2 linked regions of the Homo sapiens genome follow. The protein of the gene in region 2 interacts with the protein of the main gene of each other region in a pairwise test. Each region holds a gene or a part of one and is shown on either strand. Other genes may lie near its edges.

Region 1 (7,028 bases), on a different chromosome or scaffold from region 2:
GTGTATCCACAGCATAATTATTTAACATATTGAGGAATTTCTAGTCAATGGCAGTTAGATATAGAATTGTCATTGCCTTTCAGCATTAATCAGAATTGTGACTGTGAAATCATCACTGTTTTATATGCCATATCTGACATCCACAAATCAATAATAAAGGAATTGCCTGAATATTTTGTGTTTCTTTTGGGGGATGAAAAGTCCCCACAGTGATATATGGCATATGCAATAAATTCTGGTACTTCCATCGCTATACAGAAAATATTATTGAGTACAGCATTTCATGGGGGAATAGTATCATTTGTTTCTTCATTCATGAGAATGAGTTAGGTGAACCATTTCACAAAAGAAGTGGGTTTTTCTTCAGAAATACTGGTAAAGAACATAGGTGGAACCAAACATGCAATTCATTATATGAACACTGTTGACTTTGCTTTGAAGCAAGAGCTGCCTTGTGCAGCATATATTCCTTTACTCCTTGTAAAAGATTTTTGCAGCTGGATATAATTCCGTTGCATTGATGGAGCAACAGAATAAATTATTACATAATTTAATTCAAAAAGAAATATTTCTTTCTAAAGAAAAAAGTGTACTGATGATTGCTTTTTATTTTATTTTACTTATTTTTTTTTGAGACAGGGTCTCACTCTGTCAGCCAGGCTGGAGTGCAGTGGCACAATCTGGGCTCACTGCAACCTCTGCCTCCCGAGTTCAAGCGATCCTCTCACCTCAGTCTCGTGAATATCTGAGCCTACAGACATGCATCACCACGCCCAGCTAATTTTTTGTATTTTTAGTAGAGACGGGGTTTCACCATGTTGCTCAGGCTGGTCTTAAACTCCCGTGCTTAAGCGATCCTCCCACCTCAGCCTCCCAAAGTGCTAGGATCAGGGGCATGAGCCACTGCGCCCAGCAAAATGAAATACAGCATTCTAACTTAGAAATGCCCTGTTGTTAAAAAAAATTTAAGAAAATTTAGTTTTAGTAAAATATTTTATAGATGACCAAAATTAGCTAAATCACATTCCTGAAAGTTACACCTAGGAAAGCAGTTTAAAATCATAATGTAAAATCAAGCTTACTCATTTTATTCTTCTGTAACTGTGTTTAGAAGTTAGACTATAATAGGATTTTATTCCTAATGACATTATTTTTTACTTATTCTCTAAGAAAGTTTAAATATATCAGACATTTTAATTTACCTCATTAATCTTCATTATCCCATGTGGGGAAGTTAATGCCAAGCATCATTTATTTAATATAATAAAATGAAAATAAAGTAAAAGCATTGCCTTCTTAAAATCCCACCACAAATAAAAGCAAGCCAGGTGTGGTCTCTGCCTTATTAAGCTGATGTTAGTTCTTGTTTTAAAATCTTACATAATATAAAAGAAGAATATAATATCAGAAGTATTTAATGATTTAGGAAAGATCTATCAAACTTTCTCAAATAGATATATCAAGAATAGATGGAAAAAATACCACTGCTTTTTTGGACGTAATTTTCCCTGTACTAAGTTGTTTGTATATGCATTAAAAATACACATTTAATATTTGTTCTGTTACAAGGTTTTGCATTAATCATCCTATTTTCTGTTTAAGGGTGTTGTGATTTTGAAGTTTATCTGTTCTGGATTTAAACAACAATAGCAACAACAAAGTTTTCATTTCCATTTGACTTAAGTCTAAAATATCTTTTCTTCCTTTGGATTAGAAACTTTTTTAAAAAATTGCTCCAAAGAAAGAAATGTTCTCTCTTCTTTTGTCCCCTGGGTAGTGCCTATGATCAGAAGCCACAAGTGGGAATGAGGCCCTCCAACCCCCCCACACCATCCAGCACGCCAGTGTCCCCACTGCATCATGCATCTCCAAACTCAACTCATACACCGAAACCTGACCGGGCCTTCCCAGCTCACCTCCCTCCATCGCAGTCCATACCAGATAGCAGCTACCCCATGGACCACAGGTAACCTGCAGATACCAGTTTTCTAGAAACTGTTTTTTGCGTTCTTGGAAAAAATTTCTATTAACAATTCTGAAGGCCTAGAGTAGATTTAAGGTGAGCCTATTAATTTTGCACATCTGTGCAAAATATTTTTAGAAAGAGCTCACTCTATCTATACTTATAATTTGTGGAGAAAGTCATTTATAAACATTCCTTTTATAAACATTTAAATTGGTTGCTAAAATGGAAAATTAATCTATCTACTGACATTTGAGCATTTCCCTTTCGCTTTGCTTGAATTAAATTGCTTCACTTAAACTTTAAATCAGATCATCCCATTTTTATGAGCATATGTGTGTACTTGTTCTGTAAAGTTAGGAGACTAATTTTAGTAGGTAGCTTATGGAATTAGGTTTTCTACCTTATATTGAATGGTTCAGCTGTACATAGTTTTGCAGAATATAACTTATTTGATTAAAACTGTTGACCATCTTTTCCAGGTGATTAATATTTAATATCAGTAGACGCATGACTCTGGACACTGCGAATATACAATTAAAGAGATAGAGACTCAATTAGTATTACTTAGAAAGGAGCAAGGCAAGAAGCATAGCATAGATCTAAGGAGAATACTGCGTTAGGTAATTCATGACTCCTTGAGATTAAGAAATTCATATTTAAGTAAAATACTAAATAAAACCTGTAGAGGTTCTGAGATGTACTACCTTAATATACAGCTTAAAATCAGGTTGCTTATATACAGCATCTCTCCTTCTTTATCTCTTCTGCCCTGTGCTTCTGTATGCAGTGGCGTGCTGGTAAATGTTTAGCAACAGCCTGCATGAGAGAAAAACAAAACGCCCTCATCAGTAGCTTTTGCTGGGTCTGTGATGTACATATTGCTTTCATGGCCCACTACGAGCCATCACTGTGAGAACCCTGAATGCCGAGTTGCAAAGATGCAATAGCACAGCGTAATGTAGTATTTCTAGCATACGGATACCAGAGACATAAGTAACCTCAGGTGTATAATTGGTAATGAAATGTAGTAAGATAATTAGAAAGTGATGAGTTTTGCATTTTTATCTTCTGTTTTTAACATATTTTTTGATTGTGAAGTTATATAATTTAACTGTTAATAGTGGCTGTGTTTAAGAACTGGCTCAAAAAATTCCTGCAAGTTTGACAATAAGTCAGTGCAAACTGGCCCTGAGACACCGTTGTAAAAATAACTCAGCCAAAGGAATCTTCTAGATCAGCAGAGGAAAGCAGAAGATGTGCCACTGGCAACTTTCTGAAAATAAGGGAGCACTCAAATGTGCTTTTTATAGGTTTTTTCATGGGACTCAATCTCAAATTCAGAAACTCATTTTGCTATAAAGGGCGTAAGATGAAAGCGTTCTTTACAATGTGATACAAAGCCTTGTCTTTTCCACCCTTGGTTCCATCACTAAGTCCTCTTGTGGGGTAGTTATTAAATGCTTCCTATTATCTTTTTCTTCTCACCCTGTAGCCTTGAGACTTTGTCAGAGTGCAATGGTATGTGCATCTGTGTAAACAGTTTTGTAAATACAGATGAAAGAATTCTTATTGCAGGGTGGGCCATTAAACAGATGGACATTGTGCAGAGCTGAAAGGGAACAAAAAAATATGAACAAACCAAGTTTTATTTTCTCCACTACTGGTGACTTCTGAGTTCTTGATAACTGAATCTCACTCTTCTGATCAGTGCCAGAATTATAGATTGTATAATTCGCTTTTTGTGCAAACTGGTTATTTCTTAGGGAAGGTGCCTGCTGAATAAGCAGTGTGCCTGGTTTTAGGTGACCTAACTTGAAATGCTTTAGCCAAATTCATTTTAGTTTCTCTACTTGAAGTCAGATATTTGAGACTGAGAACAGCCGGCCCGGAACTCCAAGAGGGAAGCTCGGGGTCTTTTCCCACTGACCCCTGACTGAGTTTTGAGGACAGTACCAGCTGGCCAGTCCCAGGAAAATCTCTAAAGCCGTATGTTTCTGAGGAGGATTTCTTAGAGGGCTCTGGCCAACAAATGACAGTCCCTCAGTTATAAATGGCAAATTTGCTCTGGGAACAGATCCTTTCCCCAAAACACCCCCTCCAGCCAGGCACCCCACTTCACTCTGGGAATGCTTTACGGCCAACTGGCCTGCACCCTGCTTCCTTTCCTCAGCCTCACTCTGCTCCTGGGGCCAGCCCTTTGGCACTTTTTCCTGAACCCACTGTGCAGGAGCCCTGTCTCTCTTTCTCAGTGTTTCCACCACTTACACCCTGTTTTTCTTTATCTGGGAGTTCATCAGCATGTTCTCCTTATCTGTTAACTCCTTTCCAGAAGCTTCTTGAATCACTTTCTCTTTACCATTGGTCAGTGGCTCCTAAGAATTGCACCAAAACCTTGCAAATTCCTGAGAAGCATGCGTGTTTGATATATACATGTTCCCCAGCAACTTCCAACTGGAATCAGGTCGACTCGTAAAAACAAATGGCTTGATTCCTTACAAAGCTTTCAGTTACAAGTATTATTAACTTCCTTTTAAGGCTTCACAAGTGAGCCAGTTTCTTATTTTAACTTCAAGTTACAATTTTCTGATTCACTCCTTGACAGTTCTTAATGATAATTTCTGTTTCTTTTTTTGGCTAATGAAATAAGCAAGAGAAGGGAAATGAATGCAGTGCCAGTCAGCCTAACTGCTCTGCAATATCCGAGTTTCTAAGTTTATTTTCTGCAGGTGTAGGTGGAATTTCAGTGCTTTCCATGACCACCAGTGAGCCTAGAGTTAAATCACAGGATGGAGTGTTCTTAGAAATGCTAAAGCAATCGCTTTGCCATTCTTTAGCTTTTACCTTATTTTTATTTAACATTACCGAAATTAAATGCTAACTTTCCAAATTAAAGTCTCAGGAATGCTTTTAGTGGGGGGGTTATTAGGCTTATATTTGCTCATAGAAATGTTTTATAGGTTATTTTTAAGCACTCCTGGGGCATTTTTAGAGCACTTTTAAATCTTTAATTAATCCACATCTTTGTGGTGGGTCAATGATATTATGGATGAGAAACACAGAACAGAACGATTATGTGATTAGCCAATTGTTATAAAGTATAACCAAGAACAAAGAGGCATAGGACTCATTTCTAGCCTTCTGCTGAGGCCTCAGAACTTCCTCATGTCCTAACAGCGGGACTTGCCCCAAACCTATACAACACTATATGTTATTTTCACCTTTGGAGATCAGCTGTGCATTTATGCTTATTTTTATCAACCTGATACTGTATTTGAATCTATTGGAAGCCAATATGGTCTGCATTGCTGTTTGACAGTAAAGAGGTAGTCTTTTTACAACCGGCTTGGGTTTGAGTCCTTATAATACCTAGTTTTGTTTCTTACTAGAACGCAATGTTAATTAGGACATTGTTGAGGAATTGAAAGTCCTGATTTGAGAAAAAAGTCATTCCTCTCTTGCTTTCTCAGCAGGTTTTTGGTTGGTTGGTTTTTTGTTTATTGATCAGTTTGGTAACAGAATTAAAAGATAGAGGATGCAGTTTGAGATCTTTTTCTGGTATATAATGATTTAAGAATCTTGTGTGGAAATTATCCGTGATCCAATTGATTTAGAACTAGGCATTTTAGCCATTAATCGTTGTGTGTGTGTGTGTGTGTGTGTGTGGGTGTGTAAAATCCTCAAAGTTTTTCATTGCTCTCCAATCCTTACTCAAAGTACATCTTTAACTCATATACTGCAACAGTGCTGCAAAAGACTGATTAGAAAGGGAATATAAGTCATATGATTAAAAAACATAGAGCTACTAATCCAGGAAAGAAAAACGTAATGCTTGTTAAAGATTTACGCTTCAGGTCAGCTGGTATCATGTTCGTTCACTAAGAAATGGAAAACCGTATCCGTATTTTAAAGAATGTTCCATGTTACCGTTTCATCTGAAACACACTCTCTTATTCCCTAGATTTCGCCGCCAGCTTTCTGAACCCTGTAACTCCTTTCCTCCTTTGCCGACGATGCCAAGGGAAGGACGTCCTATGTACCAACGCCAGATGTCTGAGCCAAACATCCCCTTCCCACCACAAGGCTTTAAGCAGGAGTACCACGACCCAGTGTATGAACACAACACCATGGTTGGCAGTGCGGCCAGCCAAAGCTTTCCCCCTCCTCTGATGATTAAACAGGAACCCAGAGATTTTGCATATGACTCAGGTAGGCCTGCGCTCTGCGCAAATTACATTCAAGGCACTTTTTCACCTCCCTTGTCACATTGGTTAGTGTTGGTATCAGACTAGGTAGCTCCTGACCATTTTTTAATAAGATCTTTCAGATTTTGTCCGTTCATTGAAACTTCATCTACGTGTAAAGATTTGAACTATCAGGTCATTTTGACATGAGGTGATGGTTGAAATAGTGTCTGGAAACAAAACCAGTTTAAAGAAAAATACACTTTACAGAATTATGCACAGTCTCAGCTCGAGAGGGACATTGCAATTTTTTTTCTTAATTCTGTACTTTTTTTTCTTCTTATTTTGCTACTACAGTGCTACTTAATAAAAATGTTTACAGAAAGTAATATTCTTCTGAACTAGGTCACATGTTGCTTATAACATTTAAGAAAAAATTACTGGGGTCCCGGTGCAGTGGATCACGCCTGTAATCCCAGCACTTTGGGAGGCTGAGACCGAGATCGAGGCCACCCTGGCTAACACGGTGAAACCCCATCTCTACTAAAAGTACAAAAAATTAGCCAGGCATGGTGGCACGTGCCTGTAGTCCCAGCTACTCGGGAGGCTGAGGCAAGAGAATCGCTTGAACCCGGGAGGCAGAGGTTGCAGTGAGCCGAGATCGCACCACTGCACTCCAGCCTGGGTGACAGAGAGAGACTCCGTCTCAAAAATCTCAAAAAAAAAAAAATATATATTGGTGGCAAAGATTCTAAGTGTTCGTAAGTAAGAATTCTTACATATTAAGAGGGGAATAACAGATTATTCGTAGAGTTTAGCTTTGTCTCTGTGAGCTAGAAAGTAGTACAAAGCAGCGGGTCAAGTGGGGGAGTGGGGTTTCC
Region 2 (7,028 bases):
GGTGTGGTGACACATGCCTGTAGAGCCAGCTACTAGGAAGATGAGGGAGGAGGATCCCTTGGGCCCAGAAGTTCGAGGATGCAGTAAGCAGTGTGATGGTGCCACTGTACTCCAGCTTGGGCGAGACAGCAAGACCACCTCTTTTGAAAAAAAGAAAGGAAACAGGCCTCAGAAGAAACCGAATCTGCCTACACATTGTTTTGTACTTCTAGTCTCTAGACCTATGAGAAAATAAATTTCTGTTGTTTAAGCCACCTAGTCTGTTGTATTTTGTTACGGCAGCCCAAGCAAACCAATACACTGTGATATGAAAACCAGAAAAAAATTAAAAGAAATTCACAGACCAGTATCACTCACTAATAAAGGTCCAAAAAATCCTTTTAAACAATTACCCAATCAAATAAATCCATTAACGTACGTTCTTTAAATAGGGCATATAAATTTAAAAGATGTAAAAGTATATTCATATACAGATAACATGACTGTTTTCTTACAAATCCTATAGGTTCTACCAAAAAATTATTAGAACTAGTAAGTAAACTTAAAATTTCATAAAATACAAGGTCAACATAAAAAAAGTGTATTTACATACTAGCAACAATTAGAAATCGAAATTAAAAGAACAACATTTAGAACACCATCAAAAACATAAAATACTTAGGGGTAAATTTTAAAAATATGGTGAAAAACCTCAACTGAAAAGCATAAACACTGCTAAGAGAAATTACAGAGGACCTAAATAATTGGAGAAATATACTATGTTCATGATTCAAAAGATAATATTAAGATGTCATCTTCCCAAATGAAATCACAGATTCAAAGTAACCAACATTAAAATCCTACATCCTTTTTTATAGAAATTGGCACGCTAATCCTAAGATTTATGTGGAAATGCAAAGAACATAAATAATCAAAACAACTTTGAAATAAAGGATAAAAATTACACTACCTGATTTCAAGATGTACTATAATAATACCATAATCAAAACAGTGTGGCACTTGTGTAGGGATAAACATATATACACCAACGGGACAGAATAAAAATTGCAGAAATAAACTCATATATATGGTTAATTTTTGAGAAAGGTGCCAAGAAAATTCAATGAACAGAGATGATCTTTTCAACAAATGATGTTATAATATTAATGAAGCCTTCAACCCTTACCAAACACAGTGTATAAAAACTAACTTGAAGTGGATCATAACCATAAGAAAACTATAAATCTTCTAGTAGAAAATATACAAGAGAATGTTTTCTAATTTCATGTTAGATAACTTCTTAGCTAGAACACAAAAATTAAAAATAATAAAAATCAATTTGGACTTAAAACTGAAAACTTTATCGATACATTAGAAAAAAGAAAAAACTTTTGCACTTTAAAAAATTATTAAGAAAATGAAAAGATAAGCAACAGACTAAGAGAAAATACCACAATACACAGGTCTGACAAAAGATGTATGCAGAATACATAAAGAACACTTACAACGCAAGATGACATGCAATTTTAAGGGAAAAAATGGGCCAAAGATCAAAACAGACATTTCACAAAAGATATGCAAATGAAAAATAAGCACATAAAAATATGTTACATAACAATGTGATAAAACTACATATCCACAAAAATGACTAATATTTAAAAGACTGAAAACACTGAGCACTGGCAAGGATGTGAAACAATTAAAAACAAATAAAACAATACAAGAAATAAATACAAACCAAATAAAAGAACTTTTAATTGTTGCTGGTAGAAATGCAAAATGGTGGCCGGGTGTGGTGGCTCACACCTGTAATCCCAGCACTTTGGGAGGCCGAGGCGTGGGGACCATGAGGTCCAGGGATCGAGACCAACCCGGCCAACACAGTGAAACCCCATCTCTACTAAAAATACAAAAAATTAGCTTGGCATGGTGGCGGGCGCCTGTAATCCTAGCTACTCGGGAGGTTAAGGCAGGAGAATTGCTTGAACCCAGGAGGCAGAGGTTGCACCAAGCTGAGATCGTGCCACTGCACTCCAGCTGGGGCGACAGTATGAGACTCCCATCTCAAAAAAAGATAAAAAAGAAATGCAAAATGGTAGAGGCAGTTTTTAAAAAGTTTTGCAGTTTATTTTAAAACTAAACATACACTTGGCAGAGAACTCAGCAATTCACTACTAGATATTTTTACCCTAAAAATGTGAAGACGTGTCTGCACAAAAACCTGAATGCTTACAGAATTTTCTAAATAATAGCCAAAAACTAGAAACAAGTCAAAAATCTTTTAACTAGCAAATATATAAGCAGTTCATGTTATATCCATATAATGGGATAATACTAAGCAATTAAAAGAAAAAAAACAGTACACTCAACATCATCAGTGTATTTCAAAACATTATACCAAACGAAAGAAACCAGACACAAAAGACTACCGACTAAAGGACTCCATTAATATGAAATTCCAGAAAAGGCAAAATGACAGCAATGCAAAGCAGATCACTGGTTGCCAGGTGTTAGGTGTGAAGGTAGACACAGAGTATGAAGTGCTGGCAAAAGTGAACTTTCTGGAAATGTATCATATCTTCATTAGGGTGGTGACTGCACAGGTGTATTCATGTGTCAAAACTCATTCAACTACACACTTATGACCAGTGACTTATTTTATGCAAATTATAACTTAGTAAAGCTAATTTTAAACAAAATCAGCCTCTAAATAAAGGCAAGGAAATGGGTGGTTAACTTGGGTAACCATTTGTAATAGTGGTTAAGAACCTGACCTCTGAGCCAAATTGTCTGAATATAAATACTGGTACCACCATTATTAACCGTGTAACTGAGACAAGTTATATAACCTCTATGGGCCACATTTCCTCATCTACAAAATGGGAACTATAAGAGTATCTACAGCAAACAGTTGTTGTGAAGATTAAACAAGTAACGTAAAACCTTTAAAATAGTGCCTGGCAAATAGCAATTTATATTTGAGCACTTATTATTATGAGTATTTGTCCCAAACTAATTGTCAGTACAACACATTCCATCTTCACTTGAGTGGACTTGGCATTTATGAACGTTTGAGTTTCAAATATCTAAAAGAACCCCCAAAACAGTCGTAATTTTTACAAAGCCTACTTTGTCTCATTATCTCTATTTAGAGCCAAATGCCCATCTGTGAATTAATACTAAAGACAGAGGATTCCAATGCACTAGACACTTGAGCATGGATCATGTGTTCCAATTCTGAATTTGGGGAAAAAATGTACCACCCCAAACCACACAGATTAGGAAAGAAGGATGGATTCCCAATGGTTACACCAGAAATACAATAAACAGAAATCAGATCACCTACTGCATTCTATGTTTCACTTTATATAGAAACAGAGGCAAAATCAGTTCATAAAACTTAATTGTGAAAAATGAAAGGACAACTAACATATTTTAAGTATAAAGAAAAACATGTTACTCTCAGTGAATATATTGTTTGAGAAAGTACCAACCTATCTGAATAGAACTTGGCTCATACACACATAAAGAAAGAGGACAAAGAACAAGTAAGGTGGAGGGCAAAGACAAGTCTGCACAAAAACCTGAATGCTTACAGAATTTTGTCCTACATACAACATCACATATAAAAACAGATCAAGAACTTTAAAAACAATTTAGCAGAGTTTCACTACATTGCCCAGGATGGACTCAAACTCCTGGAGCTGAGACTACAAGCATGCACCATCATGCCCAACTTAAAAAACATTTTATTTGGTATACAGGTTGAATATCCCTAATCTGAAAATCTGAAATCCAAAATCATGCAAAATCAAAAATTTTTTCAGTGCCAACATGACTATCAGAGGAAATGCTCACTGGAGCATTTTGGATTTCAGATTTTTCAGATTAAGGATACTAACCTGGTAAATATAATTTAAATATTCTAAAATTCGAAAACAAAAACCAAAAAAACCCCTAAAATCCAAAACACTTCTGGTCTCAAGCACTTCAGATAGAGGATACTCACCCTGTAATACAAATTTTAACAGGAAAAAGACGATGGGCTAATTCCACCGTCAAAAAAGCCTTTCCTCCCAAGCTGTGGAAGTTTTCTGAGGAAAAGGGTAGCAGGTTAAAATAATTATATAAAATATGAAAAAATCACCATTAAGAAAAAACATACACATACAAGAAGGAAAAGTAAGCAACAAGGTTTAAGGCTACAGTTACTTTAATCAGTAACAGTTCTTAGATGGAACATATCCACCTATGTAATGTTGGCTCATTATCAGAAAAGGTATAAAGATTTGTAAAAGGAAAAGATAACTGCTTATCAACACATTCTTTAGTAATGAACTACTATTGCACAAGTACCTTCTTCTCAATTTATAGACTACAATTCCAAGTTAATAGTCTTCCTATCCTGTTTCATGATCATCTATTTTCTCTACCATTTAATTCACCCATAGAAGTCTCCTGCTACCATTGATGCTGATGCCCCACCATCTGATAGTCCACAGGTCTGACAGTACCAATAGGTCTGATAAAATATGACATCATCTCCTGCAGAGTATGTTTCATCATTGACATCCAAATGGCACATGTATTATAAAGCAAAAGAAGCATCAAGTTTGACTTTTGCAGATTCAAATAAGTTCTTGACAGATATTACTATAATAATATAATAAATGCTGGTTTATTCCAGTAACTGAACATGCTTTTAACAGCTCTTTAAATTATATTTAGTCCTATATTTATAAGCTCACAATGGTCTAAAAAGAAAAGTCACTTAAACTTTCCACTTTCCTATCAGAGGAAATTCAGTCCTATAATTCAGTGACTTTAAAAAAAATTTTACCAGTGTACCCAGTGAGAAATACATTCCACATACATTGCTGCACAAACTGTTACTGTCTTTATTACGACAGATTCTATGATACGTTCTAGTTCACTTTTTTTTTTTTTTTTTTTTTGGAGACAGGGTCTCACTTTGTCGTCCAGGCTGGAGTGCAGTGGTGTGATCATAGCTCCCTGCAGCCTCGACCTCACAGGCTCAAGTGATCCTCCCATCTCAGCTTCTTGAGTAGCTGGGACTACAGGCACAAGCCACCACACAGGCTAATTTTTGTATTTTTTGTAGAGATGGGGTTTCGTCATGTTGCCCAGGATGGTCTCAAACTCCTGGGTTCAAGTAATCCTCCTGCCCTGGCCTACCAAAGGGCTGGGATTACAGGCGTGAACCAAGGTGCCCACCCTCACTTTTTAATAGTCTGAAAAACAGAGCCACGTGTTTTTCAGACTATTAAAAATATCCTGGGATTACAGGTGGTGGCACCCGTCTCTAATCCCCGCTGCTTGAGAGGCTAAGACATGAAGATTGCTTGAGCCCAGGAGTTTGAGACTAGCCTGGGCAACATAGGGAGAGCCCTGTCTCAAAAAAAGGAAAAAAAAAATTGGAAACCAGTTATATTAACAAGAATGGTCAACAGGCTTCATTTTTAGTGCTAAAATGTAATTAATAGGTAATGGCTATATATTGTACTATGCATAGTCCATTAGAGTATTTAACATCTGCCATGGCACTAAGAAAAAGGAATGGTACTAACATCTGTCATGACACTAAGAGAGGCAATGATACCAGGTTATGATATTATAATTACACAGTTAAAAGCCATTCTTCGAATTAAATCATGAGCTCCTTAAGAAGAGAGAATCTTAGTTTAACACAAAATAGGCAGTCACATATTTACTGAATGGTAGATCTATTTAATGTAGATCCTAACTATTTTCTATCAAGCAGATGATTAAAAGTCAACCTTCTCGGCCGGGCGCGGTGGCTCACGCCTGTAATCCCAGCACTTTGGGAGGCAGAGGCGGGCGGATCATGAGGTCAGGAGATCGAGACCATCCTGGCTAACACAGTGAAACCCCGCCTCTACTAAAAATACAAAAAATTAGCCGGGCGGGGTGGCCGGCGCCTGTAGTCCCAGCTACTCGGGAGGCTGAGGCAGGAGAATGGCGTGAACCCGGGAGGCGGAGCTTGCAGTGAGCCGAGATCGCACCACTGCACTCCAGCCTGGGCAGCAGAGCGAGACTCCGTCTCAAAAAAAAAGAAAAAAAGTCAACCTTCTCATAAAGAGCTTACTATCTACATGCAAACGTATACTTCTGCTGCAAGAATGGCTGGGACTTGCAGAGGTAGAAAACTTCATTTGAGATAGCTGGAAAAGCTAATACAAAGGCAGTAGTTATAGAATTGTTTAAAAAAGGAGTCCGTATAAAAAACAGAAGTCATCTTTCAAATACAGACCAGACTCACAGTCTAGTTAAATGAACCGTAAGAAAATTTTGCAAAAAACAAAATAACAAAGACTTCCTCTGAATGTTGAAAATGTATCCAATGTCAAGCTAAATACTACTGTCCTGTATTAGATTCTCCATCAATAAAACACTGTTAAAATTATTCAACTTGATAATACCTTCAATCTTTTGTGTAAAATAAAATATAAAAATGCAACCTAAACCCCTAAAATGTTTATGAATTCTTCAATTAAATATAAACTTACTTTCAAATATAAGTCAGGAGAGGCCAATGTTTATTACTGAAATTAGGTACGTGACTATTTAAATCAACAGTTCTCAAGGAGGGGAGAAGGACAGGTCCCTATCACCAGGGGAGCATATGCAAATTACACCACCCACCCCAGCCTCCAATTCAGGTACGTCTTCTTGGGATGTGGGCAGGTAAGAAAAGGGAGTGGTGAGGGATAAAACATTTATCTCATATGATTATGAAACAGCTGCTTCTCCTCCAATCTGTGCCGTTTAAGAACCACTGGGCTAAATACATGTACTCGAACTTACAGATCTGAAACTCTCTAATTGCACACAAAGAAAACACAAAGTTGAGAACTGGGAAATCTGAGTTCTCATTTTGTCCTTACCTGTCCAACGACAAACAAAATTACTTCTCTGTGCCTCAATGAGAAAATAATTAGTATTGTATTAAAAATAAGTTATATATAACATCACAGAATTGTTCTAAGGATAAAATAAAACGTGAAGCA

What was found. Proteins that work in one complex are often made in the same cells at the same time.
Region 1: the proteins of COP1 (region 2) and ETV1 interact in binary tests that used the Homo sapiens proteins (3 or more experiments, as listed by UniProt).

The regions. Positions count from the first base shown.
Region 1 is NC_000007.14:13,930,646-13,937,673, reverse strand, and holds part of ETV1 (ETS translocation variant 1), read left to right. Parts: intron 1-1,777; coding exon 1,778-1,966; intron 1,967-5,924; coding exon 5,925-6,172; intron 6,173-7,028. UniProt on the Homo sapiens protein: Transcriptional activator that binds to DNA sequences containing the consensus pentanucleotide 5'-CGGA[AT]-3'. Required for olfactory dopaminergic neuron differentiation; may directly activate expression of tyrosine hydroxylase (TH).
Region 2 is NC_000001.11:176,197,273-176,204,300, forward strand, and holds part of COP1 (E3 ubiquitin-protein ligase COP1), read right to left. Parts: intron 1-7,028. UniProt on the Homo sapiens protein: E3 ubiquitin-protein ligase that mediates ubiquitination and subsequent proteasomal degradation of target proteins.